Linked DNA regions of Homo sapiens. The protein of the gene in region 1 purifies or fractionates together with the protein of each later gene. This does not show direct contact. Each region holds a gene or a part of one and is shown in the gene's direction. Other genes may lie near its edges. The genes, in order: KCTD12 and PIF1.

Region 1 (10,179 bases):
CTAGCCAGTGGCTTGGCTTCTTGTGCAAACCTCACAATAAAATATGCAGACTTTCTGGAACCACATATTAAAATCTCTGCAGTTGAATCAGCCCTTCTTTCTAAGTAACCTAAACTCAATGCTATTCAGCATATTAGAGAACTCTAGGGATGAGATCTTTAAAACCCAATGTCAAAAGGTGAATACCCGATGATCATCACCTTAGTTTCATTCATGAAAACTGGCTTTGTCCTAATTTATTTTCAGGCATGTGGGTCTGTCCTGCAGTGAGGTGCCCTGTTTTAGAGCCCTAGAAAGATATCAACTACAACTTTAACATAAGTATAAAATAATAGGGTGATATTCTTGTGTAAATTGGCTTTGAAGAAAATTTCCAAACAAATGTACCAAAAATGGTGAGTGATTCCAGCATCCCTCAAAGGAGTATATAGTCTTCAAGGTGATTATTTTGAATGACAACCTTCATTTGGGTGTTAAATGGAGCTGATATGGCTGCTGAAGAGTTCAAAGAGCATGGGATATGAAATCAGGAAGCATCCACGTGCATCCCAGCACTGCATCCCAGCCACCTGAGAGGAGGTGTGAGTCACCTAACCTTTTTGAGTTTCTTTCTTCATTTGGAACACAGGTTGGTTAACACCTCACAAAATTGTGATAATTAAGTCAACCTGACAATATGAAAACACTCGAAACAGAAAAACACTAGAATGTGATTAGAATGTGATAACTTATATATAGTTCCTCTCTAAATTTAATATCATGATTGGAAACCAAGACTTTCAAATTCTTATGAAACATCAGTGATGTTAATAATTAGTCTTAGTCAGAAGTTCCAGAATCACTCAAGTGATGAGGGCCAGCTATTTTTGTGTTCAGTTTGATATGCAAAGCCACAAGTAGAATGCACTTGTTCAATTTTATGAGCCCCAGAAGACCAGTGGATACTGCTTGCTTTGGGAAACTGGAACCTAGATCTCAGCAGTTTCCATGGATTCACTTTATCCTTGTCAAGAGTTAATGAGATCAGAATAAAGCCAAATGAACATGCTAGGAACTTGGTGCTTTGCAAACCGTAATGATATTTGAGAGAGCCAGAAATAAAATCTTGTTTATTTTGTGTACAGGACTGAATTAGGGAAAGATTAGGACAATAGTGTGTCAGTTCTATCCAGGGGCTCAAATAGAGATTCTTATTTGGGTAAAAGTACACATGGATACAAGGAAGGGAACAATAGACATTGGAGCCTACTTGAGGGTAGAGGTTGGATGGAAGGTGAGAATCCAAAAACTACCTATCAGGTACTATGCTTATTACTTTGGTGATGAAATAATCTGTACACCAAACCCCTGCGACGTGCAATTTACCTGTGTAACAAACCTGCACAGGTACCCATAAACCTAAAATAGGTTGGAAGGAAAAAAGAAGGCAGAAAGAAGAAATAAGGGCCAAGGACTTGACTCTTTCTTAACCCTAGTTCTTTCAGGGTGGCTACTTTGAGTTTCTGGTTACCAGTACTGCGGAACACAAGCACGTAGACTTTAGAGTAGCATTTCTGCCCCCAGCAGAGATAAAGAGCTGTGTTATCTTGGTCAAGTTACCTTACTTCTCTTTGCCTTGGGTTTCTCATCTGTAAAGGGGGAAAATAATATAACTTACTTCTTAATACATGTAAAGCACTCCTAGAGGAAAGGGGATTTAAAATGCAGTGTTTAAAAGCACAGATTCTAAGGCTACACTGCCTGGGTTCAAATCCCAGCTCCAGCACCTATTTGCTGTATGATCTTGGGAAAATTAGTTCACTGTGCCTCAGTTTCTCATCTAAAACTTGGGTAATAGCACCAACCTCATAAAGTTATTGTTAGGATTAAATGAGTTCATACATGTATAGTTCTATAAATAGGGCTGGCTCATAGTAAGTACTCTATACATGCTTGTTATATTATTTGTTTCCTGGATAAGCTCCAAACACCATCTTAAGGGTATAGAAATATCAACATTGTTAACTTTTGTTTCTTTGTTTGGTTCTATAAATCATAAAAATCATACTCTAGAGATAATCATACAATGTTGGGATATTCTTTACTGTCTAGACCTGTTTTTTTTTTTTGTTTGTTTTGTTTTTTGAGATGGGGTCTCGCTCTGTTGCCTAGGCTGGAGTGCAGTGGTGCGACCTTGGCTCACTGCAACCTCTGCCTCTCAGGTTCAAGCAATTCTCCTGCCTCAGCCTCCTGAGTAACTGGAATTTAGACCTAGTATTTTGGCAGTGTACCCTATATAACATTTTGTTCTCTTTTCTTCAGGTTAAATATTGTCACATCTTTTACCAAATCTTTATTAAGATCATTTTGCCTCCGGATTCACTTAATGTTATTCAATTAATCTCTCCTTCTAAATGCAAAAAGTCAATGACTTCTAAAGCCTGCATGGAGAAAAGATTCACACATATTAGGAGGATGACAAATGGAATAAATATTTATTCAGGATAATTTCTGATTCTGCCTCTCTTCCCCTTTCCCCATAGTGTTCATTTTAATGTTTCTGCCATTCATTTGTTCATTCAGTATTTATTGGGAAGACTTGTCAAGCACCATGATAAGTGGTGGAAAATAATGATTCTGACACTTGAATGGTGTTTTACAATGTACAGATCATTTTCACATATATTAAATTCATTCAATTCTCAAAGGCACTCACTTCATTTCACCAGTTCTTCCTCCCCTTTAACTTTATATTTCTCTTCATGTTCCTCATTCCTTTCCTTAAATCTTTGGTATGCAGAATACAGTAGTCTCCTTTCATACAAAGGGTATACATTCCAAGACCCTCAGTGGGTGACTGAAACCGTAGGTAGTACTGAACCTGATTGCTGTCCATTGGAACATGTTTCTCTTCATGTCTTCAATCCACAAGTTTAATGCCTTTTCCATTTTCACTACACACTTATCATGCACTCTGTGCCATACGTTTTGTGTTTGGAGGTGTGACAGCAAAACTAGCACAAATTTTTCCTTCATAATTTCACAGAAATTTCACAATGTCTACATTCTTATCATAGATCTTAGCAACCTTGGGATGTAACTTTTTTTTTCTTATTAAATTGAGAACTTTCACCTTTTCACTTAAAGGCAGCATTTTATGGCTTCTCTTTGGCATATCTGAATTGCCAGCATCACTACTCTTGTAATTTGTGGCCATTTATTAAGTAAACTGAGTGTTACTTGAACACAAGCACTGTGATAGGGTGATACTAAGACAGTTGATCTGACAGCTGAGATGGCTACTAAGTGACTCATGGGTTGGGAGTGTAGAGGTGTGGATATTCATGTCCAGGGCAAGACGAAGCAGGACAGTGGGAGATTTCATCACACTACTCTGAATGGTGTGCAATTTTGAATTTATGAATTAGTTATATTTCTGGAATTTCCATGTAATATTTTCAAACCACAGCTGACCATGGGTAACTGAAACCATGGTAATGGAAACTTTGGATAAGAAGGATTACTGTGGGGAGTGGGAGGGGAAGCTGGTTTGAAGAGAAGGCAGTAGGTGGGGGAGAAGATGCAAATGAGATGAGAATGTAGGTCCAGAGATGTTTCCAGTATCCTCCACTTTAGGATCAAAGGACAGGTTACTTGCAGGCACACTGTATCTTATTCAGGAAAATACAAAGAGTTACTTGAAAAGGAGCAATGACCATCAATTAGCAATGACCATCATTAGAAACTGGTTTGAGACTAAACACAGGGCTAGTGGGTTTCCAAATCCTCCCCAATCCCTTGCAATCAAGCATATTTAACATACTGGAGATGCTAAAGAGTTATGACTCTCTTCTTATAAACACTCAGGCCCTCAAGTCCCAGCATCAGAGTTCCCCAGTAGTATTTCCTTTTGAATTCTGTGATACCAACCAATAGGCAAGAAACAGAACACACAAAATTAACTAGAAAAACATTCCTTGTGTTTCAAATCACCTGTTTCATTCATTATTATATCTCTCATGCATTACCTGGCTTCCATAAGGAAATACCAATGGCTTTTCTGCAGTAGACTAGCTGGTGGTTGATGACTACCTTATGTCAAGATGTAGAGAATGATGATAGTAGGCTGCAGGTAGTGAATAAGCACACGGTATCACTCACATTTGACTCTGTACTGATCATCTCAAGGGTACTTTGGAGATTCACAGGATACAAGTAGATGACACAATACATAAACTTTCAATGTGAGCTCACTCATAACTCAGGCCCCTTTAACTTGTTTGACCCTGTGCCTGGAATGCTCTTCCTCCAAAACTTCCCATGGCTGTCTCTTTCTTATTATTCAGCTCAAATGTCACATTCACAGAGATGCCTTCCCCAGGCACTCTGTATAAAGTAGTATTCCACACTCAGTCCCTCTATCACATCTTATAATTTTATTTTCTTTGTGGCATTTATCACCACCTGAAATAGGCTTACTTATCTTTATACTATATTTATTTGTCTCCCTCGCAAGACTATAAGCTCCTAGTGGGCAGTGATTATTTTTTAACATGCAGCCTGGAATATAGTAGTAGGCCCTGAATAAATAGTGGTTGAATGCTTGCGTGAGCAACAGATATTTATCAAATGCCTGTAATATACCAGCTCTGTTCTAGGCAGTGGGGGTGTGGCAGTGAACCAAGCAGACAAAAACTGCTGAAGTCTTGGAGTTTATATTCTGATGTAGGAAAAGAGTCAACAAATAAGGCAAGGAAGAGGAAGCTGCAGTGAGGCTGTGCTGCATTAAGAAGTGGAATCAAGGAAAGGTCTTGCTGGGCAGACCTGAAGAAGGTGAGAAGGGAGGGACCTGAACAAGGTGAGGAACACGGGAGGGAGGAGAAATGAGACTTTTACAAGGATGTGCAAAGGCCCTGAGAAAACAAGAAAGGGGCTATGTGGCTAAAGCCAGCCAGCTCCTGGGGGCAGGGCAGGAGATGTGTCAGAGAGGTGCTGGTGGGATAACTCCAAACATGTAGAGTCTTGTAAGCCACTGAGAGGACTTTGGATTTTGCTCTTTCTGAGATAGGAAGCCACTGGCAGGCTCTGAGCAGAGTGACATACCAGCCTTGGATTATAAGCAGGGTCCCTGTTTTTGTTCTGGTGATACAAGACTGTAGGAGCAGAAGTAGAAGCAGTTAGGAGACCAGTGCAATAATCCAGGCAAGAGATGATGGTGGCTTGGTCCAGGGTGATGATAGGGAGATGGTGAAATACGTTAATAGTCTAGAAAGATTTTTAACACAGAGCTGGCAGGATTTGCTGATGCAATGAGCAATGGTAATTATACAAAAATATGTGCAGAACTGATACAAAGAAGGCTTTTCTTGGATTTGTAGAAAAGAGGCTGGTTTTGTCAGGTCTCTGACACTAATATAACGCCTAGTAGCACAACCACCTCGAAATCCTGCACTGGGACTTGGAAGTTTTGTGTTATCTATTATTTATCCCAAAGAACAGAACAACAACAAAAAAAGAATGTTGAAATACATTCAGTATCAAAATCTGTACTTGCAATTAAGATAACTGGTTTGGGGGTTGATCTCATTTCAGCACACTGACATGAGCGCGGTAATTGTTGAGCAGATATAAACATTTCAAAATAAAAATGACATTTATCTGTGAGGAGACTGTGAAGCTCACTGGGTAGTTACACAGAAGGATAAATTTTATCAAGAACAAAGATCTTGCCTGATTTATCCTGATGTGTGGTCTATACTTCAAACTGATGTGATAACTGCGCAGACCCCTGACCCTTTGCTTATTGGGCTACACTGAAAGCGCTTTGGAGATTATTCGCCTTTGCATTCCTCACTCCCTGGTGCCCTGCAAATAATAGCAGGTACACAAGAAACATTCAGTGACCCAATCATTTCTTGACACCCTCCTCTGCACTCTTCTCTTTTTGCAGCATTCAGGAGCTCTTACTTATTTTCATACCCAAATCAGTGATCAGATAATCACTCATAAATATGACATTTCAGAACGTGCTGGGAGCAGCGCAGACAGTGTGTAGGGAGCCATCCAGAGGCCCCACCCACCTGGGAAGCCAGGGAAAGCTTCCAGGGGGAGGGGGCGGTTCTGTGGGCTGCAGTCCGAGGGGGAAAAGCAAACGTGTAGGCAGCAGGAGTTGAGAGATGGGATCCAGACAAGGGCCTTCAGATATATAAATATCCCTTTCTGAGACTGACGGGAACTTGGACAGGGCCGAAGAGTGACCGAGGCATGCGGGAGAGAAGGGGCGCCTGGACTTTTGGAAGGATAAACATGCAGGCGCCAAAGGTGGCTTTAAAAATTACGTTAGATCTGCAACTGTTGTGAGTCTAAGGGCGCGATTCAACGAAGGCTGAATGGGACCCGGAGACCGAACGTTCCGGAGTCTTACCCCTTCACTTCGAAGTGAAGTGCCTCGAAGGCCCTGCGGGAAGAGGGAATTGCAATTAAGAGCAGATTTGAAGCTTCATCTCATTTTGTCTCTGCAGCCAGAAAATAAACTATCGTAAAGCATCCTACTGCGGGACACTGAGGTTTGCTTTTTGTTTCTAGGTTTATTTATTTATTTTCCAGGCTGGCTGCAAGGCAACTTGAACAAAATCTGGCTGCGCTCGGACTGGGGCGGCTCTTTCGTCTCTCCAGGTTTTTCGCGTCTCTCTACTTTCAGTGACACGACAACCAACGATGGCAGGCCGCAGCTGCACTGCTGGAAGCGCCCAGTTCCGCAGGCGGGAGGGCCGGAGGCGGCCACGCATTTCCACTCCCGGGGCGACAGGCTTCCGAAAGTTCACGTCCTCCTTCCAGAGTCCTTGGGTGCGGGCTGGGGCGAGAGGGGAGGGGGCGCGGTGACTGTCCCTCCAAGGAGCTGTCTTCCGAAGCCGCCAAGTCTCGGGCGGGTCCTCTTCGGAAGAGGGAGAAAGTTGGGCGGGACCACGGGGCGGGGCTGGTGGGTGGGGAGCGGGTGGGAGTCCGGGCGCCCCCAGCGCTCGCGAGCCGGGGTGGAGCCAGCAGCCCCGCGTGGCGTCCGCGTTTAAGATGCAAATCGAGTCCCCGCTCCCCACCTCCCCTCGCCCGGTAAGCGAGGCTCCGCCGCCGCCCACGCCTCCTGCGCGCCACGGCACCAGAGCAGGCGGCTCTACTTAAGCAGCGCGCGGGCCGCGACCCGGCACTCGCCTGGAGCGCGCGGGCAAGGCGGGCGGAGCGCACTGGAACTCAAGGGGGCGCACAGCGGCGCGCTCGCACCGCTCGGCTCCGCGCGGCTCTAGGAGGTGGCGGCGGTGGCGGTGGCGGCGGTGGCGGCGGCGGCGGCGGCGGGGCGCAGGGCTGAGCGAGCGTCCGGGTTCCGGGGCTCCGGGGAAGGCGGTTGCAGCTCCTGAGTGCAGCGCGGCTTCCTGCCACTGTCCCGGCCCGGCCACCTCTCTGTCATGGCTCTGGCGGACAGCACACGTGGATTACCCAACGGGGGCGGCGGCGGGGGCGGCAGTGGCTCCTCGTCGTCCTCCGCGGAGCCACCGCTCTTCCCCGACATCGTGGAGCTGAACGTGGGGGGCCAGGTGTACGTGACCCGGCGCTGCACGGTGGTGTCGGTGCCCGACTCGCTGCTCTGGCGCATGTTCACGCAGCAGCAGCCGCAGGAGCTGGCCCGGGACAGCAAAGGCCGCTTCTTTCTGGACCGGGACGGCTTCCTCTTCCGCTACATCCTGGATTACCTGCGGGACTTGCAGCTCGTGCTGCCCGACTACTTCCCCGAGCGCAGCCGGCTGCAGCGCGAGGCCGAGTACTTCGAGCTGCCAGAGCTCGTGCGCCGCCTCGGGGCGCCCCAGCAGCCCGGCCCGGGGCCGCCGCCCTCGCGGCGCGGGGTGCACAAGGAGGGCTCGCTGGGTGACGAGCTGCTGCCGCTTGGCTACTCGGAGCCCGAACAGCAGGAGGGCGCCTCTGCCGGGGCGCCGTCGCCCACGCTGGAGCTGGCTAGCCGCAGTCCGTCCGGGGGCGCGGCGGGCCCGCTGCTCACGCCGTCCCAGTCGCTGGACGGCAGCCGGCGCTCGGGCTACATCACCATCGGCTACCGCGGCTCCTACACCATCGGGCGGGACGCGCAGGCGGACGCCAAGTTCCGGCGAGTGGCGCGCATCACCGTTTGCGGAAAGACGTCGCTGGCCAAGGAGGTGTTTGGGGACACCCTGAACGAAAGCCGGGACCCCGACCGTCCCCCGGAGCGCTACACCTCGCGCTATTACCTCAAGTTCAACTTCCTGGAGCAGGCCTTCGACAAGCTGTCCGAGTCGGGCTTCCACATGGTGGCGTGCAGCTCCACGGGCACCTGCGCCTTTGCCAGCAGCACCGACCAGAGCGAGGACAAGATCTGGACCAGCTACACCGAGTACGTCTTCTGCAGGGAGTGAGCTCCCCAGACCCCCTCGCCACTCCAGCGCCCAGTCCTTCTCCTGCCCGAGAGATGATTACAGAGCCTCTTGTCCCACCTTTGTCCCCTGGCTGCTGCCCTCCCATTCTCCCCCTCCAGTAGTAGCTGGGTGAGACCTGTCCGCCCACCTTCCCTCCACTACAGAACCTGCAGCCGCAAATCCTCTGGGCTGCTTCGTCTTCTTTGGACCTCCTGAACCGAGAGAACCCAGAGGAACCCCCACCCCACCCCCACCTACCACTCCATGCTTTCTCTACTCCCTGCCTCAAACCACCCCTCCCCCAGATGGTACTTCAGTTTGGATCTATTGGGGGAGTGTGGCCACAGACCGGGGGATGATTGAATTGTTCAGAACCTGATTGGACCGTGTCCAATGTGCGGAAGATTTCCTTGAAATCTTCTCAAGCTCTTATGACTCACTGGGGGTTTAAGAGATCAGGATTGGTTCCACTGTCTGGGGTTAGTGTTTTACAAGGTCATTACACAGTCTTTTTGACCTCTTTTGAAGGTAGAGTTTTAGAAGGCTGGATGGAAGATTCTGAGCCTGGAATTAGGACCCCATGGAGGCAGTTCAGTAACTAAACTAATAAAGTTTTGAAAAGTTACACGTAAAGTAGAAGAATCTAGTGCGTGGGACAGTAAAGGATCCTTTCTCGTACAGAATAAAAGGTCTCAGCCTGTAGCTTAAACTTATAGAAAGTGATCCGCCTGCCTGCAGAGGCGCCCTTTTCAGCTGCTGCTCGCCAGAAGCCCTTGATTCCACTGGTTGACATGGCAGCAGTTACTGGCAAGAGGGAGAAAGGACGCTGCCGCCTAAGAGTGCAAGGCTGCTCAGGTCTCCAAGCGCCGTAGGAGGTCACCTGGCAGTGACTGTAGGGAGCTGGGTCATAGTGCACGTCGTGGGTATTAGGAAAGCCTGTATTCTTTCAATGAATGTCAGTAGGACCTTCCTTTAGCTGTAAGACTTGGTGGGCGGGGTGGGGTGGGGAGGGAGGAAAGGGTAGGAAGGGTGGGAAGGGAGAAGCAGACATAGTCATTTATGATTTGAAAGTTGGAAGTTTGTACCATCTGTTTGAGTATATGCACATTTAAAAAATATCATATAGTAAATGCAAACATGCCAAGTATTTTATAAAGATTAATAACAGACCTACTCTTACCTGGCAGTTTACTTAACTTACTGTTTTGAGTCCTAAACTTAGAGTTGTTAATGCTTATATATAATCTAACCAAAGAGTTACCCAGTAGGGTTTTAGTTTTTGAACTTTTATTTTCTTGTTGATTATAAATCCTGATTTTGGAATCTATTGCGCAAAAGAAGTTTCATTTTGGTTACTTAGACCTAAGATCACTTATTAAAAATCCTTATTTTCTCCAAGCCCAGCAAACGTTGACTTCTGGGCAAACCTGAAAACCTGAAAATGCCACTTTCATGCAGTTTGTTTGAAGTTAAGTGGAATCCTTTCAAATGACGAGCTGCAGAGAACTCAGCACCAAGGGCTGCCTATCTGTAGATAGCTGTAAAATGGAATATTTTTAAATGAAGGCAAATAAGTACTTAAAAGTGAGCTGAGCAATAAAATGGTCCAATAATAGGTAAATGCAACAGAAACAGAAGGAGACCTGGTTGCCTTATGCCTTTACTCTTACATGGAATAAATTCCCAATGCATATCCTATGTAAACCATAAGTGAAGGGAAATAAACCTCGTCATGCTCCATGCTGTGAGGTGTCCTTTGGATATT
Region 2 (16,336 bases), on another chromosome or scaffold:
AGCTTATGGAGAGAATGAAGTGGTCATTCGTGTCCTGGGCAGCCAACAGTTGAAGCAGATGAGGGGAAAAAAGTCTGGTGGGTTTGACAATTTTCATGGGCTGGGGCAGGTGAATCATAGCCCACCAGGGTTTGACACTAAGCTGGCGAGAGGACAGAGACAGGATAAGAAGGGGCCCTGGCTAGACAGGGTTTTGCTTGGGTATTTTGAGGTGAGAAACAGGTTTGTGATAGGAAGAGAAACTTAGGTGACAGGAAGGAAACTTTAGTGACAGGATGAGAAGGGTTAGGGAACCCAGGGGAAGGAGCTAAGGGAGGGTGTAGACCACACTGGTGTGGTCTGCCCAGGACTGGACAATGGGGGTCTTCAGGGCACAAGGAGAGATCGGGACCCCAATAGTTGCTGGCAAGCTCTCCAGGCAAACCCAAGAGCTCCATGGAATGAAGGCAGTAGAGGACAAAGGGTTACCAGGCCCAGCATTGCACATGGGCCAAGAAGGGTGGGGGCAATGCCTAGCGGGTGGGAGGATGCTCTGAGATAGCTCTGTTCCCCCCAGGAAGCCCCAAGGTGGCCCCTGCCTGTGAAGAGGCTGAGCTTGCCCTCCACCAAGCCACAGCTTTCTGAGGAACAGGCTGCTGTGCTGAGGGCCGTCCTGAAAGGCCAGAGCATCTTCTTCACTGGGAGTGCAGGTAGTGGGGGCAGAGAGGAGGTAGGGGGACAGTGGTGGGGTGGGATAGAGGAACAGGGAGACCTGTCTAACTTTGCCCCTGTCCAGGAACAGGGAAGTCATATCTGCTAAAGCGAATCCTGGGCTCACTGCCCCCCACAGGCACTGTGGCCACTGCCAGCACTGGGGTGGCAGCCTGCCACATCGGGGGCACCACCCTCCATGCCTTTGCAGGTAAGTAGGAACCCCTAGGGCTTGAGCTAAGAGCAAGCCCAGCTTCTGGGAAGGGAGAGAGGGGAGGTCTGCATAAAGAGGGAGTTTTGGGGGCTGGGCGCCGTGGCTCACTCTTGTAATCCCAAAACTTTAGGAGGCCAAGGTGGGAGGATCGCTTGAGCCCAGGAGTTTGAGACCAGCCTGGCCAACACAGTAAACCCTGTCTCCACAAAATTTAAAAATTAGCGGCCGGGCGCAGTGGCTCACGCCTGTAATCCCAGCACTTTGGGAGGCCGAGGCAGGCGGATCACAAGGTCAGGAGATCAAGACTATCCTGGCTAACACGGTAAAACCCTGTCTCTACTAAAAATACAAAAAAATTAGCCAGGCATGGTGGCAAGCGCCTGTAGTCCCAGCTACTCTGGAGGCTGAGGCAGGAGAATGGCGTGAACCCAGGAGGCAGAGCTTGCAGTGAGCCGAGATCACGCCACTGCACTTGAGCCTGGGCGACACAGCGAGACTCCATCTCAAAACAAAACAAAACAAAATTAGCTGAGCATGGTGGTGTGTGCCTGTAGTCCCAGCTACTATGGAGGTTGAGGTGGGAGGATCGCTTGAGCCCATGAGGCCCAGGTTACAGTGAGCCAAGATCGTGCCACTGCACTTCAGCCTGGGTGACAGAAAGAGACCTTCTCTCAAAAAAAAAAAAAAAAAAAAAAAAGAGAGGCTTTGGGTATTAGCCCAGGCTGAATAGTGTCACTCACAGGCATCGGCTCAGGCCAGGCTCCTCTAGCCCAGTGTGTGGCCCTGGCCCAAAGGCCAGGCGTGCGGCAGGGCTGGCTGAACTGCCAGCGGTTGGTCATTGACGAGATCTCAATGGTGGAGGCAGACCTGTTTGACAAACTGGAGGCCGTGGCCAGGTCAGTATGTTCAGAGGGCAGCAGGTGAGAACTGGGACCTGGTGGTCTTCTGTGTGCCCCTAAAGCACCCCACGCTCCTCTCCAGAGCTGTCCGGCAGCAGAACAAGCCATTCGGAGGGATCCAGCTCATCATCTGTGGGGACTTTCTGCAGCTGCCACCTGTGACCAAGGGCTCCCAGCCCCCACGGTTCTGCTTCCAGGTATTACTCACCTCCTAGCTCTGCTCTCCTTGGGGGTCTGCTCTGCTCCTTGACCCACCCCCACCCTGCCCCCACCAGTCCAAGAGCTGGAAGAGGTGTGTGCCAGTGACCCTGGAGCTGACCAAGGTGTGGAGGCAGGCAGACCAGACCTTCATCTCTCTACTGCAGGCCGTGAGGCTAGGCAGGTGAGCTCTGCTGGTTGGGGAAGGGGCTATGGGATGAGGATCCAGGCATGGGCCACAGTGGAACACAGAGAGGGACTCACAGAAGGGGTAGAATTGTTACCCTCAGGAGCAAGCACTCCATGCAGGAAGAGGAGCCTTGGGCAGGGCACTGGACAACTCAGGATGGATTGTAGTCAAGACCATCATGGCACCATAGGAGATGGTTGCTCTGAGTGCTGGGACCTAGCCTCCCTCAGGGTTGGGTCTCCATCACCTAGCACAAGGCCTGGCATAAAGTAGGTGTCAGGGGCTGGGCACGGTGGCTCACGCCTGTAATCCCAGCACTTTGGGAGGCTGAGGCAGGCGGATCACAAGATCAGGAGTTTGAGACCAGCCTGGCCAACCTGGTGAAACCCAGTCTCTACTAAAAATACAAAAATTAGCTGGGCGTGGTGGCACGCACCTGTAGTCCCAGCTACTTGGGAGGCTGAGGCAGGAGAATCGCTTAAACCAGGGAGGCAGAGGTTGCAGTGAGCCAAGATCATGCCACTGCACTGCAGCCTGGTGACAGAGCGAGACTCCGTCTCAAAAAACAAAAACAAAACAGAAACATAAGCTAGATTTTTCACCCAAGGTAGGAGGCAAGTGGATAGAAGATTGTACCCTGGAGGCCAATCTGGGTCCTGCAAATCTCCAGCCTGTGCTCACTCATCATAGCCAACTTCCTCAGGAGTATTATGGAGTGCGAGGGTGGCCAGCTCTGACCTGGGGCAGCACAGGGAAGGGTGCCCACATGTGATCAAAGCTCAGTACCCTGCCCCTGCTTATTCCCCATGTTTGGGGTCCAAGTTTGGAAGGGACAGGTTGGCCAGCTTGAGGGGGCAGCAACTCTTCCCTGGTGCCCTCTTCCAGTCCCAAGGCCTGACCCATGGCCTGCTGCTTGAGCCATCCTGCCCATGTTCCCCACCTCCCCTGCTGCACAGGTGGGCTCTGCCCTGACAGTCCAGCCCCAACAGGTGTTCAGATGAGGTGACCCGCCAGCTCCAGGCCACAGCTTCCCACAAGGTGGGGCGAGATGGGATTGTGGCCACGAGGCTCTGCACCCACCAGGATGATGTGGCCCTCACCAACGAGAGGCGGCTTCAGGAGCTGCCAGGTGAGCAGGGAGCCTGGGCTGGGCAAGACCAGCTGGGAAGAGTTATAAGCAGATGTAGCCCCCAGGCAACCTGGGCCTCTGGGTCCTAGGCCCCCAACCTCTGAAGCCATAAAGGCCCTCATATTTGCAAATGCAACTGTGACTTTGAGAGGTGTGATGAACTAAATTCCACAGCCCCCCAGGCCTGCGCTGCCTCTACTCCCTACCCCCGTGCTCTGGTCTAATAGTTTTTTTTGGAGGCTGGGAGCGGTGGGTCATACCTGTAATTCCAGCACTTTGGGAAGCCGAGACAGGCAGATCACCTGAAGCCAGCAGTTCGAGACCAGCCTGCCCAACATGGCAAAACCCCATCTCTACTAAAAATAGAAAAAAATTAGCCAGATGTGGTAGTGGGCACCTGTAATCCCAGCTATTCGGGAGGCTGAGGAGAATTGCTTGAACCCAGGAGGCAGAGGTTGCAGTGAGCCGAGATCACGCCTTTGCACTCCAGTCTGGGCAACAGAGCGAAACTCCTTCTCAAAAAATAAAATTAAATTAAATTAAAATTTAAAAAAAGTCTTTTTTGGGATGCTGAGTCACAAGTCAGTGATTTGTGATCTGTTTGCTCAACTCTTTTTCTCCAGGTAAGGTACACAGATTTGAGGCTATGGACAGCAACCCTGAGCTGGCCAGTACCCTGGATGCCCAGTGTCCTGTTAGCCAGCTCCTTCAACTAAAGCTGGGGGCCCAGGTGAGTGGGAAGCAGGGCCTAGCCCCTGGGAGCTTGGGCTGTCCCGCATGGGCCTTGCTGATCCCTACCCCTCTGCCCAGGCCACTCTGCAGCCAGTGGGCCCAGCTTTGACCACACTGAAAACCTCCCTGCCTCCTGTTCCCACCCACCTTCCCATCTTAAGCTTTCTACTGTTTTTCTCTTCCTACACCAGGAGGTCCTCCAAGCAGTGTTGTTTTGGGCAAATTTCTTTCCCTTGCTGAAGCTCTGTCCCCTCATCCCTAAAAATGGGGAATGAAATACCTACCCCACACAGCTGTCTTCTGTAGTATACTTTATAAACAGGAGACAGTCCTGATTCCTCCCTCAATGTTGGGGGTGGGCAGAAGATTTTCCTTAGGGCACCCAAGGGGAAAATGCAGGCACAGTGTATCTGAGAGGGGTGGCAGGACCTAGAGGCCATCCCTCAAGATCTGTGGTCCACAGATGTACCTATAACCAAGCCAATCATTTTCAAAGCCCTGTGATAGAGGTTGCCTTATTGATCCCTTACCACCTCCTTCTGGGGCAAATTGAGCAAATATTATTCCTCTTTGACATAAAGAAAAATTGGGACCGAGGAAGATAAGGCAACTTGCCCCAGGGGTCACAGGCAGCCAGTGGCAGAGCTAAGGATTGGGATTCAGTGTCCCCATGACAGCTCCCTGCCCTCAGCCTCTGAGAACAGCCATGGCGAAGCTAAGACCAGGCATGGGTAGGGGGGCTGCTGTCCATTCCTCTCTCTCCCTTGCAGGTGATGCTGGTGAAAAACTTATCGGTGTCTCGGGGCCTGGTGAATGGTGCCCGAGGGGTGGTAGTTGGGTTCGAGGCAGAAGGGAGAGGTAAGTGTTGGGAGGAGGTGGCAGTCCTGCTACGGGGCTTTGCAGCATGGCCCCGGGAATGGTGGGGGGAGAAAAAGACTAGGAAGGAAAGCTCCAAAGGCCCCTGCTCCTCACCTCAGAGCCCTGAAGCAGAGCTAAAGTTGGACTGCTCCATGCTCTCCTTAGGGCTACCCCAGGTGCGGTTCCTGTGTGGAGTCACTGAGGTCATCCACGCTGACCGCTGGACGGTGCAGGCCACCGGGGGCCAGCTCCTCAGTCGGCAGCAGCTGCCCCTCCAGCTGGCCTGGGCGATGTCCATCCACAAGAGCCAAGTGAGCACCGGTGTGGGGGGCAGGGACAGGGAGGGCAGAGGGAGGTCAGGCATGTTGCAGTCTATGTGTCTTTTTTTTATTTTTGAGACAGAGTCTTGCTCTGTCGCCCACGCTGGAGTGCAGTGGCGCGATCTTGGCTCACTGCAACCTCCACCTCCCAGGTTCAAGAGATTCTCCTGCCTCAGCCTCCTGAGTAGCTGGGACTACAGGCGCATGCCACCACGCCTGGCTAATTTTTGTATTTTTAGTAAAGATGAGGTTTCACTTTGTTGGCCAGGATGGCCTCAATCTCCTGACCTGGTGATCCACTCACCTCAGCCTCCCAAAGTGCTGGGATTACAGGTGTGAGCCACCGTGCCTGGCCTATGTGTCTTTTTTTATTTTATTTTAGTTTAGTTTAGTTTTTGAGACAGAGTCTTGCTCTGTCGCCCAGGCTGGAGTGCAGTGATCTCGGCTCACTGCAAGCTCCGCCTCCCAGGTTCACACCATTCTCCTGCCTCAGCCTCCCGAGTAGCTGGGCTACAGGCGGCCGCCACCACGCCTGGCTAATTTTTTGTATTTTTAGTAGAGATGGGGTTTTGCCATGTTGGCCAGGCTGGTCTCGAACTCAGGTCATCTGCCCGCCTCGGCCTCCCAAAGTGCCGAGATTATAGGCGTGAGCCACCACACCCAGCCCAGAATAAACTTTTCTTTAGTGAATTTCCAAGTCCACCTCCTCTCCCTTTCCTGGATACATTCACTTCCCCTCTGCCATCTCCTGCCCCACCATTTTCTAAGCCACCACTAGATACGTAAAATTGTATAAATTGTATACAACCACTGTATCAAGTATAAAGTATAGATATAATGAATAATCCTATTTTGCACAGAAAGAAACCAGGGCTCATGTGTCCCATGTCACACAGTTAGTGAGTGGCAGCCTGGATTCAGCTCCACGCCTGTCTGACCCAGAGCCTGAGTGCTTTCCTTTCACTCCATCCCTCAACTCTTACCTGGATCTGTCTCCCGGTCCCCCTCCTACTCAGACAGCCACCTGCTGTCATGCTCTCCCTCTGTCTAGAGACTCTCTGGACTGGACGAGGAGATCCAGGGGCAGTAGCAGGGCTGGTAAAGGGTCAGGCCTTTCGGGGCAAGGGACTTAAGGCTGAGCTGACTCCATCTCTGTCCCTGCATCCCCCAGGGCATGACCCTGGATTGTGTGGAGATTTCTCTGGGCCGTGTGTTTGCCAGTGGCCAGGCCTATGTGGCCCTTTCTCGGGCCCGCAGCCTGCAGGGCCTACGTGTGCTGGACTTTGACCCCATGGCGGTTCGCTGTGACCCCCGTGTGCTGCACTTCTATGCCACCCTGCGGCGGGGCAGGAGCCTCAGTCTGGTAAGAGGGAGTCATCCAGTGGTGGGCTGTGGCCACGGGCAGGGTGGGAGCTAGGACAGAGGGAGCGCCGGCCCAGTGGGACCTGGGGTGGGGGCAGAAAAGCCCTCTGCTGGCTCCTTTAGGGGTGAGGGCAAAAGGAAAGAGATGCTGGCCCCCAGGTTATGGTCCTGGGGAACAGCACAAACCCATGACTGGGCTTCTCTGGCTCTGATCCAGGAGTCCCCAGATGATGATGAGGCAGCCTCAGACCAGGAGAACATGGACCCAATCCTCTGAGCCTCACCCACAAAGAGAAGACAAAGGGTGGCCTGTGGCCTCCCCGTCCTCCTGCTCCCTAGTGGCCCAGGGCCCCAGGGAATAACTGGAGTAGGCAGGCAGTGTCCCCTTCTGTATTTTTTAGGGACTCTCAGCCTCCTGGCAGGGTTAAAGGGAGAGTACTTTAAACCCATATACCAGCTGTGCTTCAGTTTCTCTCACTTTGCCCTGGGTAAGCTGCTGTAGGGTCAGAAGTAACCCTTTCTGTGCCAGTTGAGAATGAGCCTGTGTGGTAGCTGATGTCAGAGGACAAAGCTCTCTGCAAGGGCTGGACACAGAGCTGCAGAGTCCTGAACATCCCTCCTTTCAGGCTGCAGAAGGGAGAGGCAATGAAGACAGGTGCTCCGGAAGCAGCATCAGGGCTCTTGGAGGGGACTGGTGGGGACTCAGGCTGGGTGCAGCCTCCAAACAGAGAACGGAACTTAGGTGTGTCTCTACAGCTAGGCCCAGCCTAGCCCAGCCCAGAACAAACACCCTTCAGAGCCTAACCAAAGAACATAAGCTGCAAAATGTGCACCCATATTTTAAGCTGCTTTTTCAGGGGATAAATAGTGTTTGGGGACATTGAAATGGATGTTCTCAGGTTGTATTTATTTCGGACAAATAAACTAGAGAATTGTGTAAAAACTGTGCCTCCTGCCTCCTCTCTCTCCCCCTCTCACTTGTGCATGTGCACACACGTGTTTGTTTAGGCCACAGTGGCTGAGATCACACCCTTCTGTGAGGTGGTCTTAGTATCACTGGTCGTTTGAAAAGCTGAGTTATCTGATGTTGGTGACTAGCAATAAAATGACATTGTCACCGGGCATGATGGCTCACGCCTGTAATCGCAGAACTTTGGGAGGCCGAGGCGGGTGGATCACCTGAGATCGGGAGTTCGAGACCAGCCTGACTAACATGGAGAAACCCCATCTCTAGTAAAAATACAAAATTAGCCAGGCATGGTGGTGCATGCCTGTAATCCCAGCTACTCAGGAGGCTGAGGCAGGAGAATCACTTGAACCCGGGAGGTGGGGAAGTGGAGGTTGCAGTGAGCTGAGATTGCGTCATTGCACTGCAGCCTAGGCAACAAGAGTGAAACTCTGTCTCAAAAAAAAAACAAAACAGAAATGACGTTGTCATTTGGTGAAGGTGAGTTACCATCACCCAATAGTCAGACATACTAGAGAATTCACGTGGTGGGAAACAAACAGGCCTGCTATATGTTGCTGCATTTGCTAGGAGCCTGGGTTGAAATTTCTCAGTTTGAGCCTTGATGGTCTCCCCAGCTTGAACCTGATCATCAACAAACTAACTTCAGTTTTTCAAAAAGCCTGATGGAAATTGCCCAGGGGTCCTCATAGGCTAGCTAAAACTAAGATTCTCTGCTTGTGAGTGAAAAGGTATCGATTCTGGGTGGTAAATATGGGTTATGATGGAGGCATGCATTGGCAGCTACAGGTGTCAGATTAATAAAAAAGGTGGCTGGGGCCGGGCGCAGTGGCTCACGCCTGTAATCCCCAGCACTTTGGGAGGCCAAGGCGGGCGGATCACGAGGTCAGGAGATGGAGACCATCCTGGCTAACACAGTGAAACCCCGTCTCTACTACAAATACAAAAAAATTAGCTGGGCATGGTGGTGGGCGCCCGTAGTCCCAGCTACTCTGGAAGCTGAGAATGGAGTGAACCCGGGAGGCGGAGCTTGCAGTGAGCTGAGATTGCACCACTGCACTCCAGCCTGGGTGACAGAGAGAGACTCTCTCTCAAAAAAAAAAAAAAAAAAAAAAAGATGGCCTGATAAGGTGGCTCACACTTGTAATCCCAGCATATTGGGAGGCCAAGGCGGGTGGATTGCTTGAGCCCAGGAGTTCGAGACCAGCCTGGGCAACATGATGAAGCCCTTGTCTCTACCAAAAAACAAAAATTTGCCGGGCACAGTGGTGTAGTCCCAGGAGGAACTCTGGAGGCTTGAGGTCAGGGGTTCAAGACCAGCCTGGCCAACATGGTGAAACCCCATGTCTACAAAAATTAGCTGGGCATGGTGGTGCCACCCTCCCTGACCTGGAGAAGTCAATTTTTTTTTTTTTTTTTTGAGACAGAGTCTCGCTCTGTTGCCAGGATGGAGTGCTGGAGTGCAGTGGCACGATCTCAGCTCACTGCAACCTCTGCCTCCCTGGTTCAAGCGATTCTCCTGCCTCAGCCTCCCAAAGAGCTGGGATTACAGGCACATGCCACCAAGTCTAGCTAATTTTTGTATTTTTAGTAGAGACAGGGTTTCACCATGTTGGCCAGGATGGTCTCGATCTCCTGACCTTGTTATCTGCCCACCTTGGCCTCCCAACTGCGCCCGGCTGAGTCAATTGTTTTTCTGTGACACAATTTCTTTTCTCTGTTCCAAACAGAAGACACTCTTAGGAGCAGAAAACAAGCCCACCAGAGTGACACCTCCTTCCCCTACCCCACAACAAGTGGGCAACCATGGGGGTCTTTAAATGTGGTGCCATTTATATGTCAGATGTTCCCAATTTCCCCATGCAACACATCCCTTCTCCCAGGTCCAGCTGTGAGCAGGTCACACTGAGGCCCTGCCCTCAGGGCAGTTACAATCTGGTTGCACTTTGCTGCTTTCACTCTTTCCTTCTACTGAACACACGGTCTGGGGACCACCCAGTTCAGCCCAGATAGCACTATCTCATATTCTCTAACAGCTCTGCAACCTTCGGTGGTCTTGGATGGAAAGAGGAGAAACTGACTCAGGATAATTGAAGCAGGAAAGGAAGATAACAACAGGCTATCTCAAAGAACTGATATGAAGCCCAGAAAACTAGGCTTGGAAACAAATAGGAATCAGAAAGGCTAGAGCCACTGGCAGGAGTAGAGCTGGGAGCAGTCAGGCCAGGAAGACCTTTGCAGCCGCCACCAGACACTGAGCACAGCTGCCAGGGGCAGGAGCTCTGCACTCTGCTACCTCCTCCCCCGATTCAGTTCAGACCTAAAGGCGGGTATGGGGCTGGGTGACCTTGGTCTCCCATGCAAGTCCTGTGGCTACTGGCAAGAGGCCAAATGTTTCATCAAGTTGCAAGAGGGCCTAGTGATTCTGTCCAGGATGACTCTCTAATCACCCCCGAAGGCCGGGTTGTTGGGGATGTCTGAGGGTCCGGTGATGCAGTTATCTTCTGCATCCTCACCTGGGACTCCTCTCTCTGACTCCATCCTCCACACATGGCTGAGGCATCCCACTCACCCAGCCCCTTCCCCTTCCGCAGGGGCTGATCACAGCTTTTCCCAGTCTCATATGCATCTGTCCTGCTATATAAAATGTCTTTCTCGTGAGACTACCTGGGCACCGGAAAGTCCTCTCCTTAGCAATCCCTTCTCATGGTGAAGATGCTCTCTGGAAGGCCCCCAGAGGAAGACAAGTGAGTTCCACATGGTGGGTGAGCTCCAGACATTCCTGACCCGCATGCCAGATCACAATAGTGGATTATTTTATGAGGTGTGCAAGAAACCTCACGGCTCTCTATTTTCTTGACATCTAATTTAACTTAACTTTGAGCCTGTATCCCGAGGGGTGTAGGGAAACCCTATCTCAGTCAGACAGGAGGCTCCTCAATCCCCAGGGTCAAATGAGAGTGGGGCTTATAGGAGCCGCTCTCATCTTCAGGGCCCGCCCTGATCACCATCCATAGGCAGTAACTCAGCCTGGGCCCTGGGATGGGGTGGGAGGCTTTCTGAGACTCTCCAGTACCTCATGCCAGGCCCTCTGGGCCCCTGCCACCTCCCTGTGGTGCTCCCAGAGGACCCTCTGACCACTTGCCCCTCCCCAGTCTATGGAACCCTCCTTCTCTCTGCCTCTCCTTCCCCCCAGCATCATCCTCTCAAGGAACTTTACCTGTGAAGCAAAGGCCAGGAAAGACTGTGTCCTCAGATAACTTCTGGATTTGAGGCAAAGAAGCACAGGGAGAGCCATATACGGTGGCTCGCACCTGTAATCCCGGCACTTTGGGAGGCTGAGGTGGGTGAATCACTTGAAATCAGGAGTTTGAGACCAGCCTGGGCAACAAGGTGAAACCCATCTCTACCAAAAATACAAAAAATTAACCAGGCATGGTGGTGCGTGTCTGTGGTCCCAGGAGGCTGAAGTGGGAGGATCACTTGAGCCCAGGGGGCAGAGGTTGCAGTGAGCCAAGATATCATGTCACTGAAACTCAGGCTGGGTAACAGAGTGAGACTCCAGCTCAAAACAAAACAAAGCAAAAATACACACACACACACACACACACACACACACACACACACACACACACACACACACCCAGCACATGGAAAGGGGCAGGCAGACAGCAAGGGAATGAACAAAGAAATAAGGAAGGTAGAGAGCTTACCCTTAGGCGACCAGGACTTGCTACCTGCCCAAGAAAGCTGCCCTCATATAGCAGGGTGTGGGTGGAAAAACTCCAACTGCTTTTTCCTGTTCTCTCAACAGCAACAACAATTAACACAGAGAGAAGACTTCTGTGACCAAATGCAGGGACTTCTTCCCATCAACAAACAAGCAATTCTGTAGCGGACACTAGCTGGGTGTCCTCTAATTTAATTCTGAAGCTATCTACCTGGAGGCAGCCTCAGATCCCACAGGTTGAGGACTCAGTCACCAAAACTGACAGCCCCTTCAGACAGTCACAAGTCTGGGCCTCTGGAACTTCTGACCGACTGGCTTCAAGTTGGGGTTCCCAAGACCCCCCTCTTTTGGTTTGATTAATTTCCTAAAGTGAGTTACAGAACTCAGGGAAACACATTTATCACTTTATTAGAAAAGGATACGTGGGGGAAGGGGTGTGGAGCTTCCCTCTGTGGGAAAGCCTTCCTCCACTAATATCCACTTGCTCAGCTACCCAGAAGCTCTTAGAACCTCTGCTTTGGGGCCTTTTATGGAGAATTCATTATGTAAGCATGATTGATTAACCATTGGTCATCAATTTAACTTTCAGCTCCCTCCCCTCCCCTGAGGTCATAGGGTGGGGCTGAAAGTCCCAACCCTCTAATCCTGCCCTGGTCTTTCTGGTGACCAGCCCCATCCTGAAGCTGCCTAGGGGCTGCCGGCCATCAGGCAATCATCAGCATACAAAAAGACACTTATCACTTTGGAGATTCCAAGGATTTTAGGAGTTGTATGCCAGGAAATGGGGATGAAGACCAAATGTATATTTCACATTCTTACAGGCTGTGCCACTGCTGATGGGGGCAGGGGGCACCCCTTCATTTCTGTTTCCTTCCTAGTTGGGGGATTTCGCACTCTCCTCTCCACTCTCCCACAGGAAGGCTGGAGTTGACTTTGCCAGGTGGACGAGTTGGAGAAAAGGTGTTTGGAGAGAGGAGCTACACAGTGCAAATGCACAGAGATGTGAACTATCCTTGATGGACCTATGGTCCACTTTAAAGGCTTTAATGCAAGAGAAGGTGGTATGTGGGGAGGCTGGCCTGGCCCTGAGGGGGCTGAGCCCAGAGTAGGGGGCTCAGCCCAGGGCGATCCAGTCCCCAGCTGGGAGGCAGGCAGGGGGCCAGGCAAGAGGGGCGGGGCGATGGCCCTCAGAAAGATAATCTTATGACCTGACTTGTCACAGTTCCTGCCACTTCTCAAAGACATTCACCCTTGGAGGGGGAGTCCCACTACCTGCTGTCCCTCCACTTGCCTCCTGTGCCTTATGCTCCCTCCTCAGTGTCCCCTGGGATCTGCATCTGAGGGTAGTGAGCAATTTACAGCTCAGTCTCCCTGCTAGGATGAAGCGGATCCCTTGATCCCGAGAGACACAGCTGAGATGTCTTTGTGTCCTCACAACCCTCAGCAGGATGACTTTTGAAAGCAGATGCTTCATTAAATGTTTCATAAGTGAACAAAGGCTTGGACAGTGACCTGAGAGGTAAGGAATGTTTACTCCCATTCTGCAAAGGAGGTAGCTGAGGCCTGGAGAGGTTCTTAGTGGCAGAACTGGAACTAGAATAGAACCCTGAGCCCTGTGCGCTCCTTCACCCTGTCTTCAGTGGGGTGCCAACTAGGCCTGACCCCATCCTTTCTGACGTCCTGGTATATTTTTCCCATCCGCACTGGGCTAATGATCTTACTTAACCCCCAATCCCGGAGCAGCCGGGCCCTCCCGCTCCCCATGCACTGCAGACCACTAGGTGGCGCCAATTGGTCATTCAGTCCTTTCCCAGGGAACCGCAGAGCCTTTGTCTCCCAGTCTCTGGGCTTAGGTGGGGGGTGCATGGACACTTTAGGAGGTGGGGGCTGAGTTAGTGTAGAGCAGGGAAGTTTTAAATAATCTTCCATCAGATTATCTGCTTTGTGCTCATTAACCCTCTTGTTGGTTTGTTTTTGTTTTTGAGATAGGGTCTAGCTCTGTCACCCAGGTTGGAGTGCAGTGACGCAGTCAGAGCTTGCTGCAGCCTCGAACTCCTGAGCTCAAGCAATACTCCTGCCTCAGCCTCCCAAAGCATTGGGATTACAGGGGCGAGCCACCATGCCCGGCCTCATTAACCCTCTAGTTTGTTTTTCACAATAACCCTGGGAGGTTGGGACAATTGTCCCCATTTTATAAAGAGAGAAACCTAATTTCTTTTTCTTTTCTCTTTTTTGTTTTTTTGTTTTTTTTGAGACAGTCTTGCTCTGTCACCCAGGTTGCAGTGCAGTGGTGCCATCTCAGCACACTGCAACCTCTGCCTCATGGGTTCAAGCAATTCTCCTGCCTCAGCCTCCCGAGTAGCTGGGATTACAGCTGGCTAATTTTGTATTTTTAGTAGAGACGGGGTTTCTCCACGTTGGTCAGGTTGGTCTGGAACTCCCGACCTCAAGTGATCTGCCTGCCTTGTTCTCCCAAAGTGCTGGGATTACAGGCATGAACCACTGCGCATGGCTGAGAAACCTAACTTCTGAGAGGTTAGGTGACTTGGCTATGGCCACACTGCAAGCTGTATCTGGAACCCAAGTCCCAAATAAAGGGTCCTGGGATTTTTGCAAAGTCAGCAGAGAGCCCTGAAGCCAGATTCCTGTGTTTAAACACTGGCCCCATCAGTTCCCGACTGTGTGACTGTGGTTATTCTGCTTAAATCTGAGCTCTGGTTTCATCGTTGGTGAAATGGGGATAAAGCCGATCAAACATGGATGGAGTTAGGAAGACAGAAGAGCTGGAGTCAGGCCAGGGATGCAGCAAACCCTCAAGGTTAGCTCTTATTTATTTGTCTTGATTATTGTCACCTGAAGGGGCCATCCCCCGCCCCATTAACCCCCTCTTGAGCAGCCTCTGGGGAATAACAAAGAGAATTCACAGCAGCCCAGAGTAAATGAATGCCATCTTTCACAAAGCCTTCCTTCCTGTCTGGCCTTCTGGAGGACCTGGGCTGCGCCCACCCACCATGGGGAAGGGGAGGATGAAATCTCCCCACTCTGCCTCCCGCAACACACGTGAGGTACAGGTCCCGGTCAGTTAGTGCACTTGGGCATAATCCCCCTTCTGTCTTCTGCCCATTTTCTTATGAAAGCGACTTCGACAACTCTAAAGTGGAATTTTTTTTTTTTTTTGAGACGGAATTTCGCTCTTGTTGCCCAGGCTGGAGTGCAATGGCGTGATCTCGGCTCTCTGCAACCTCCCCCTCCCGGATTCAAGCAGTTCTCCTGCCTCAGCCTCCTGAGTAGCTGGGATTACAGGCATGCACCACCACGTCCGGCTAATTTTGTATTTTTAGTAGAGACGGGGTTTCTCCATGTCGGTCAGGCTGGTCTCGAACTCCCAGCCTCAGGTGATCCGCCCACCTCAGCCTCCCAAAGTGCTGGGATTACAAGTGTGAGCCACCGCGCCCAGTCTACAGTGGAATCTTTAGACCTAGTTTACAGAGGAAGTCAAGGCTCACAGAAGGTGGGTGGCCCTAGGTCATATGGCTGTAAATGGCAGATCCAGGTTGGGCATCCAGGTATCTGAGGCCTCACCTTGGTGTTCAGGGCCTTTGAAAAAAGGACTGAACATGGGATGCTTCCTTTCCCCCTAGCTCTGTCCCCAAAACTCCACAGGCCAGACTCCATTTCCTTAAGATTCCAAGAGCATCACCTGCTGGGACAGAAATGGCAGGGGGGTGCCCCTGAGTCCTTGGCCCTGGCAGGCCAAGATGGGAGGGGTGGGGCTTGAAAGGCTTAGAAGGTGACCTTGAATAGGGAATTGGAACCCTAAATTCCTGAGGAGGCCTGGGGCGGGGGCTGTGAATGAGACAGCCAGCCCATCTCCACTCCTCCCCCGCAGCTCCAGCTCCCGCCTTCAGCCTCAGCCTCCAGGCAGATGCCCGCCCCAGGGGTGCCCCCTCAATCCCCGCCCCCAGTGGGTGTTGGGTTCAGTAAGCAGAGCCCCAGCTCACCTGGGAAGGTGCAGAGTGAGGATGGCATCCAGTTACAAGCTAGGGCTGGGAGGACAGGCAGGGGCAGCCCGGGGGCAGGGGCCAAAGGTCTGGAAACTGATGGTGGGGGCAGGTGTCAGGGGAGGTCTCAAGACAGCCCCCCACTCTGCAGGCCCTATCCCCTTGCCTCCCAGAAAACCTCCACACTCCTGGCATCTGAAGACCGGGGCGTCTCCCCGCAGACTAGGCCTGTGCTTGGTAAACTGTGCAGGGCTCTGCGCACTCCTGGGAGGTTGTTCTCTCTTGCAGCTCCACTCCTTTCTCCCTTCCGCCAAGATGGCCTCCTCTCCCGCCCCTCTACTGGGACCTGGCACAGCACTCCATGCCTATTTAAGGCAAATCTCCTGATCTCCTTTTAAATAACATTCGCTCCTTGTTGTGGAGAAAGCAAGCAGGGCCTGAGCTCGGGAAAGGGGAGGAAACCCAAATATCCCATGGAGTGGGTCATGGGGGAGCACGGGTGGGGGAAGCAGGTATGTACTCCCCCTCCCAAAATGAGCCTTGAGAAGGTCCTTTCCCCCATCCCCTGAGTCCTGCTGGTCCCTCATTGCATAGGCCCTGGATTGGCTCGAACCCCTTCAGAGGGGCTGGGGCACTCCCAGAAGGCTAGGACAGGGCAGCTCTTGCAGGCGTTGGGGGAGGGGCATGGGGGGATATATGCTTTGGCTAAAGGAGGGGCATACCCAGGAAGACCGGCAAGGGCCATGGAGGGTCTGAGGTTGGATGGACATCTGACCTCACAGCCCACCCAGTGTGAACGATGCACCAAAACTGCTCTTTGTTAGAACCTGAGGCTCAGAGAGAGCAAAAAACTTGCCCAGGGTCACACAGCCTGAGTGGAAGGGTCTGAAATCCAAGCTGGCAGGCTCCAGATTTAACGCTTTCTCCCCTTCTCTGCCAGGTCTCCTTGTGCCAGGGACTATGTGACACAAGACTTCTAGGCCCTTTTCAGGCATCATTCAAAGCCCTGAGCACACACCCTTCCTCCGCCTGCCTTCCTCTCTTCT

Evidence for each region.
Region 2: the proteins of KCTD12 (region 1) and PIF1 purify together in Homo sapiens (co-immunoprecipitation; 2 studies listed by BioGRID and IntAct, with this or other methods). This does not show direct contact.

What each region holds. Positions count from the first base shown.
Region 1 is NC_000013.11:76,883,406-76,893,584, reverse strand, and holds the start of KCTD12 (BTB/POZ domain-containing protein KCTD12), read left to right. Parts: upstream 1-7,179; 5' UTR 7,180-7,436; coding exon 7,437-8,414; 3' UTR 8,415-10,179. UniProt on the Homo sapiens protein: Auxiliary subunit of GABA-B receptors that determine the pharmacology and kinetics of the receptor response. Increases agonist potency and markedly alter the G-protein signaling of the receptors by accelerating onset and promoting desensitization.
Region 2 is NC_000015.10:64,806,831-64,823,166, reverse strand, and holds the end of PIF1 (ATP-dependent DNA helicase PIF1), read left to right. Parts: intron 1-556; coding exon 557-689; intron 690-775; coding exon 776-901; intron 902-1,646; coding exon 1,647-1,800; intron 1,801-1,885; coding exon 1,886-2,000; intron 2,001-2,078; coding exon 2,079-2,185; intron 2,186-3,147; coding exon of another isoform or gene 3,148-3,163; exon of another isoform or gene 3,164-3,180; coding exon 3,181-3,320; intron 3,321-3,943; coding exon 3,944-4,050; intron 4,051-4,822; coding exon 4,823-4,910; intron 4,911-5,075; coding exon 5,076-5,221; intron 5,222-6,401; coding exon 6,402-6,593; intron 6,594-6,809; coding exon 6,810-6,869; 3' UTR 6,870-7,218; coding exon of another isoform or gene 7,219-7,476; 3' UTR 7,477-7,535; downstream 7,536-16,336. UniProt on the Homo sapiens protein: DNA-dependent ATPase and 5'-3' DNA helicase required for the maintenance of both mitochondrial and nuclear genome stability. Efficiently unwinds G-quadruplex (G4) DNA structures and forked RNA-DNA hybrids.